2 linked regions of the Homo sapiens genome follow. The gene in region 1 interacts genetically with each later gene. Each region holds a gene or a part of one and is shown on either strand. Other genes may lie near its edges.

Region 1 (3,500 bases):
AGAATAAGAAGTTACTCAAAGGAAATATATTATGAAACAAAGGTGACTGAATACCTAATTATCTTGATGAGCTCACTCATGTTGACATGGTCAGGTACAAGGAACTTTGTTTTATCCAGAACAGGAAGCTGCTTCTCACCCTTGTATCGTTCTATTATCACCTGGAAAAGAAGCCAGAAGTGATTTTAAAATAGTCATCAGGGCCAGGCGCGGTGGCTCACACCTGTAACCCCAGCATTTTGGGAGGCCGAGGCGGGCACATCACGAGGTCAGGAGACTGAGACCACCCTGGCTAACATGGTGAAACCCCATCTCTACTAAAAATACAAAAAAAAATTAGCCGGGCATGGTGGCGGGCGCCTGTAGTCCCAGCTACTCAGGAGGCTGAGGCAGGAGAATGGCGTGAACCCGGGAGGTGGAGCTTGCAGTGAGCCGAGATCGCGCCACCGCACTCCAGCCTGGGTGACAGAGCGAGACTCCATCTCAAAAAAAAAAAAAAGTCATCAGGCTGGGCATGGTGGCACATGCCTGTAATCCCAGCACTTTGGGAGGGTGAGGCCAGCAGATCACCTGAGGTCAGGAGTTCGAGACCAGCCTGGTCAACATGGCAAAACCCCGACTCTACTAAAAATACAAAAATTATCCAGGTGTGGTGGCAGGTGCCTGTAATGCCTTCCAGCTACTCGGGAGGCTGAGACAAGCTTGAACCTAGGAGGCGGAGGTTGCAGTGAGCTGAGGTTGCGCCACTGCACTCCAGCCTAGGGCATAGAGCTAGACTGTCTCCAATAAATAAATAAAATAGTCATCAACAATTAAAAATATACAAAATGCCTCCTACAGTCTAACTGGCACATGCCAAAATGGGCTTTGAAACAGCACATTCACTAGTTTCCTCATAGCTCTCCTGTGAAGAGTGATCATTTGCTAGCTTAGACATCTACCCCTTACAAAATATAGTACAAGAGAGACAATATGTCTGCCGTCAGGTAGGAAGTGGGGGAAGATACTTGGCTATGTATCCTTTCATTCTGTTTCAGTTTTGGAACCATGAAAAATACATACCTAGTCAGAAAAAGACCTCAAGCCTTACCGAGGCAGAGAGGCTGGGAACCAGCTTCAAGCACAAAACATCTGAAACTCTCAATTCCAAAACTACCATATCCTGAGACATGGCTGAAGTTTTTTTTTTTTTTTTTTTTTTTTGAGACAGAGTCTTGCTCTGTCGCCCAGGCTGGAATGCAGTGGCACGATCTTGGCTCACTGCAACCTCCGACTCCCGGGTTCAAGCAATTCTCCTGCCTCAGCCTCCTGAGTAGCTGGGATTACAGGCACCCGCCACCACGCCCAGCTAATTTTTGTATTTTTAGTAGAGATGGGGTTTCACCATGTTGGTCAGGCTGGTCTCGAACCCCTGACTTCGTGATCCACCCGCCTCGGCCTTCCAAAGTGCTGGGATACAGGCGTGAGCCACCGCGTCCGGCCAGCTGAAGTTCTAATGAAAGTAAATGCATGTGTTTTGGGAGCCACGGTGACTCAGGCTGGTTGTTCTGGTGCATAAGGAGGTGAGGCTATGCGTTCCAGGCCCACCTGGGAAACATAAAAACCTTTCATCCATTAAAAAAAAAAAAAAAGTAAATGCCTGTGTTTTAATAAATGTGTAAGTTCCTAATTATAGTAATATGCTCAATGTTTTTCCACACTAGAGACTGTCTAGTTGACATGAAAAAATTATATTTGACAAGGCAAGTAGAGTCCATTATTAGCTGGTTCTAGAGACAAAGTTTTGTGCATAATGACCTGGTACTTTCATTCTGATAACATATTTCTTTAAATGAGGTTAAAAATACAAATATTTGAGGCCAGGTGCGGTGGCTCACGCCTGTAATCCCAGCATTTTGGGAGGCCAAGGCAGGCAGATCATGAGGTCAGGAGACTGAGACCATCCTGGCTAACATGGTGAAACCCCGTCTCTACTAAAAATACAAAAAAAATTAGCCGCGCATGGTGGTGGGCGCCTGCAGTCCCAGCTACTCAGGAGGCTGAGGCAGGAGAATGGCGTGAACCCGGGAGGTGGAGCTTGCAGTGAGCCGAGATCACGCCACTGCACTCCAGCCTGGGTGACAGAGCGAGACTGCATCTCAAAAAAAAAAAAAAAATTTTATACACACACACACACACACACACACACACACACACACACACACGTATTTGAACTACACAGGGAACACATATAGTTTCATATTATGAATTTAAATAAAGCCATCAGGCCGGCGTGGTGACTCACGCCTGTAATCCCAGCACTTTGGGAGGCCGAGGTGGGCGGATCATGAGGTCAAGAGATCAAGACCATCCTGGCCAACATGGTGAAACCCTGTCTCTACTAAAAATACAAAAATTAGCTGGGCGTAGTGGCACGTGCCTGTAGTCCCAGCTATTCAGGAGGCTGAGGCAGGAGAATCACTTGAACCTGGGAGGCGGAGGTTGCAGTGAGCCGAGATCGCGCCACTACACTCCAGCCTGGGCGACACAGCAAGACTCCGTCTCAAAATAAATAAATAAATAAATAAATAATCCATTGGCTCCTCACTATGCTTCCTTTCCATGGAGCAAAATATTTTGTTTTTTTTTAGTTTTAAGCTGTTATAATACCTGACCACAGATGAGCCTCTGAGTCTCATTAGTGTCTGTGTTTACTGAACGCTGCGGACATCTTTTCTATATACAGTAATTCTTCCACCCTGTCACAACAAAGAGAAGTTGAGTGGCAGGAATGGGAAATCTTTACATGCTTCTTTGGGAAAGAAAAATGCTTATTTGTACATTGTTCTATTGTGTGAGACCTACATAGGGTTCTGTGTAAGGCCGAGTCAAGCTGTCATCACTTTCCTTGGTAAGTTTGAGAGCTTTATCTAGCGGACACGTTCTGAAGTGTGATATCCACAAGGAAATATCAGTGTGTAGGCTCCACCTGCCTGAGTTTAAGTGGTAGCAGAAATTAGAGGCAGTACAGAAATCTTGGCACCTGAGGCCAGCCAGTGGCTCATGCCTATAATCCCAACACTTTGAGAGGTCAAGGTGGAGGATCATTTGAGCCCAGGAGTTTGAGATCAGCCTGGGTTGTTAAACATAGCAAGACCCTGTCTCTACAAAAAACTTAAAAAATTAGCCAGGTGTAGTGGTGTGTGCCTCTAGTCAGAGCTACTCAGGAGGCTGAGGAGGGAGGACTGCTTGAGCACAAGGTGGCTGAGACTGCACTGAGCTACGATCGCACCACTGCACTCCAGCCTGGGAAAGAGAGTGAGACCCTGTCTCTTAAAAAAAGGATACCTCTCTCTAGGTTGTGAAACTGACACCCAGGGTTTGGCTGTCTGGTGATTCCTGTAAAAACCCGTCAAGTGGATGCACTTATGCGGTGCTCTCCTCTGCGTACATTCATGACTGAAACCGAGGCCTGAGACTACCTACCGGGATTTTGGTTGGATGCTGCTCTCGAATAAGTC
Region 2 (3,500 bases), on another chromosome or scaffold:
TTCAGAGTGAGTGAGTGTGTGCATGCATGCATATGTTATATGTATCCTGGATTGCATGTGTAAATTTATTTCTTACTATGGCTCATGGTCAAGGAACTTTGAAAAAATACCAAAGATAGGCCATGCGCGGTGGCTCACACCTGTAATCCCAGAAGTTTGGGAGGCCAAGGCGGGCACATCACCTGAGGTCAAGAGTTCGATACCAGCCTGGCCAACATGGTTAAACCTCATCTCTATTAAAAATACGAAAAAATTTAGCTGGGCGTGGTGACATACACTTGTAGTCCCAGCTACCTGGGGAGGCTGAGGCAGGAGAATCGCTTGAACCCAGGAGGCGGAGGTTGCAGTGAGCCAAGATCACGCCACTGCACTCCAGCCTGGGTGATGGAGGGAGACTCTATTTCAAAAAAAAAGAAAAAGAAAAATTACCAAAGATAGTGCTGATACACTAGGTCAAAAAGCACTAGCACGAATAGGTCCCAGAAGAAGTAAAAGATAAATACACACCCATGTGTGCAAGTGCATTTGTGGCAGTGTTAATTTGTTGTTGTTTTTTGAGATGGAGTCTCACTCTGTCACCCAGGCTGAAGTGCAGTGGCGCGATCTCGGCTCACTGCAACCTCCGCCTCCCAGGTTCAAGCAATTCTCCTGCCTCAGCCTCCCAAGTAGCTGGGATTACAGGCACACACCACCACGCCCGGCTAATTTTTGTATTTTTTAGTATAGATGGGGTTTCACCATGTTGGTCAGGCTGGTCTCAAACTCCTGACCTCAGGTGATCCACCCTCTTCAGCCTCCCAAAGTGCTGAGATTACAGGCATGTGCCACCGTGTCCAGCTGCAGTGTTGATTTTAACAGCAATAAAAGCATAGATTGATCCAAATTATCAAGAAGAGGGACAGATTATATCAACTCAAGTAAATCCACAACATGGAATAATCATAGAGCCACAAGAAAGCAAGCTGTAGAAAACTACAGACAATTTCGTTAAGTAGGAAATGCAGGCATAAAACCATATATATGTGATATGTATATAACCCACTTTTGTAAAATATAGATGTTGTATATGTGTGACACAGATATAAACACACACACAAAAGAATGGCCATACAAACACCAACATGGTAACAGAGGTTATCCACCAACCCTGTGACTGTGGGTGATTGTGTTTTTTTCTGTGCACTTCTTTGTTTTCTGTGATTATATTGGTGGGGCAGCGGGGATGGACACAATGATTATATTGGTGGGGGATCACAGGAAAATAAATATTTGTTAAGAAAGCGTTTAGAGTAATCCTGGAGATAACCCAAAAGTTGCAAATGGAAGTGGGAGATACATGAGGAGTATTTCTGACCTCTAAAGGTAATTACCATACTTTTTCATAGGACAGATTCACAGATGATGACACTTCCATTTTTATAGCACTTTGCAGTTCACAAATTGCTTTTACGTACAGCATCTTAACAACCCCAGGAGGTCTGCGGGGAACGCCTGTACATAAGATCTCTTAGTAGGAAAGGACAGTCAAGGACACCTGTCAGTACCATGTCAGAGATTGAACCTGGGCTGGGACTGAACCAGAGGGACATTTTAGAGGCTTTTTAAATTTTTTTTTTGGAGGCAGGGTCTTGCTTTGTTGCCCAGGCTAGAGTGTAGTGGTGTGACCACGACTCACTGCAGCCTCAACCTACTGGGTTTAAGCCTCAGCCTCCTGAGTAGCTGGGACTACAGGCACGAGTCACCATGCCCGGCTAATTGTTTTTACTTATTTTATTTTTTTATAGACAGGAGGGTCTATGTTGCCTGGGCTGGTCTTGAACTCCTGACCTCAAGCAATCCTCCTCCTCAGCCTCTCAAAGTGCTGGGATTACAGGTGTGAGACACTACACCAGCCATTTTAGAGACTTCAGTAAAAACCACAGGACCATTCTACATGGTTTCAGATCAGCCAACTAGGATAGCAGCCTAAAAGGCAGACCTCACTAGAACAACCCAGTCTACCCCTGGGGAGAAGATGAATATTCCTTACCCACAGAACCACCAGTAGACAACTGACAGAACTCAAACAGGCCATCGAATACTGGACAGTCCTCACCAACGTTGACTTGAAAGAAATAAGCAAAAGGTTAGTTTCCACAATTTCCTTTAGTTTACATATTTATGAGCTGATGGAAAAAAACACAGAATTTAAATTCAGGAGGTGTGGGTTCTAGTCCAGGCTCTACTTCCTGGCTGTATGACTGCATCAAGTTGTTTAACATCTTTGAGCTTTAGCCCATTATTATTTTTTTATTTTTTAGAGCCAGGGGCTTGCTCTGTTGCCCATGCTGGAGTGCAGTGGCACAAACATGGCTCATGTGCAGCAGCTTTGACCCTCACCTCCTGGGCTCAAGCAATCCTTCCACCTCAGTCTCCCAAGTACTTTGGACTACAGGTGCATGCCACTATACCCAGCTAATTTTTTTTTCTTTTTTTTTTTTTTAGAGACAGAGCCTCACTATGTTCCCTAGGCCTCATGCAGTCTTCTTGCCTTGGCCTCCCAATAGGCATGTGCCATCACACCTGGTCTTAGCCCATTATCTATAACAAGCAAAACTGATATCCCACCTCACCCACTGGTCAGAAAATTAACAAAAATCTAATATGGAGAAGCAGTTAGCAACTTGGAAAATGTTGGTTCGTTTCTTGAGGGAGAAAAACTTATCCTCTGGCCCTCACGCCAGCTGACAAACAAGGGGCAAGAACAGAGACCCAGAGAACTATCGTTCACTGCGCACGTACAACACGCCAGACACTGCGCTACATGCGTTAAATACCCGAGATCATTCATCTTCACACAAGCTTCTGAGGTAAGATTTGGTCCCATCTTATAAGTAGGGAAACAAGGCCTGGCACAGTGGCTCACACCTGTAATCCCAGCACTTCGGGAGGCTAAGGCAGGAGGACCACTTGAGGCCAGGAGTTCAAGACCAGCCTGGGCAACATGGAGAAACCCCATCTCTACCAAAAACATAAAAATTAGCCAGGTGTGGTGGCAGCTGCCTGTAATCCCGGCTACTTGGGAGGCTGAGGCACAAGAACCACTTGAACCCGGGAGGCAGAGGTTGCAGTGAGCTGAGATCGCGCAACTGCACTCCAGCCTGGGCGAGACAAGAGTGAGACCCTGTCTCAAAAAAATAAATAAATAAATAAGTAGGGAAACAGGTTCAGAGAGGTGAGCTGTTAGTAAATGGCAGAAGCAGTATGCAAGCCTCAAGCTTTGGTTTGTCTGTTTTTTTTTTGAGACGGAGTTTTGCTCTTGTTGCCCAGGCTGGAGTATAGTGAAGTGATCTTGGCTCACTGTAATCTCTGCCCTCCAGTTTCAAGCCATTCTCCTGCCTCAGCCTCCCGAGTAGCTGGGATTACAGGTACCTGCCACCACACCTGGCTGATTTCCGCATTCTTAGTAGAGACGGGGTTTCACCATGTTGGCCAGGCTGGTCTCAAACTCCTGACCCTGT

What was found. A genetic interaction does not mean that the proteins touch.
Region 2: of MAP1LC3B (region 1) and HDAC1, a change in one rescues a mutant of the other (synthetic rescue), as found in Homo sapiens cells (one study listed by BioGRID).

What each region holds. Positions count from the first base shown.
Region 1 is NC_000016.10:87,398,836-87,402,335, reverse strand, and holds part of MAP1LC3B (microtubule-associated protein 1 light chain 3 beta), read right to left. Parts: coding exon 3,466-3,500; intron 162-3,465; coding exon 55-161; intron 1-54.
Region 2 is NC_000001.11:32,323,083-32,326,582, reverse strand, and holds part of HDAC1 (histone deacetylase 1), read right to left. Parts: intron 2,105-3,500; coding exon 2,030-2,104; intron 1-2,029. UniProt on the Homo sapiens protein: Histone deacetylase that catalyzes the deacetylation of lysine residues on the N-terminal part of the core histones (H2A, H2B, H3 and H4).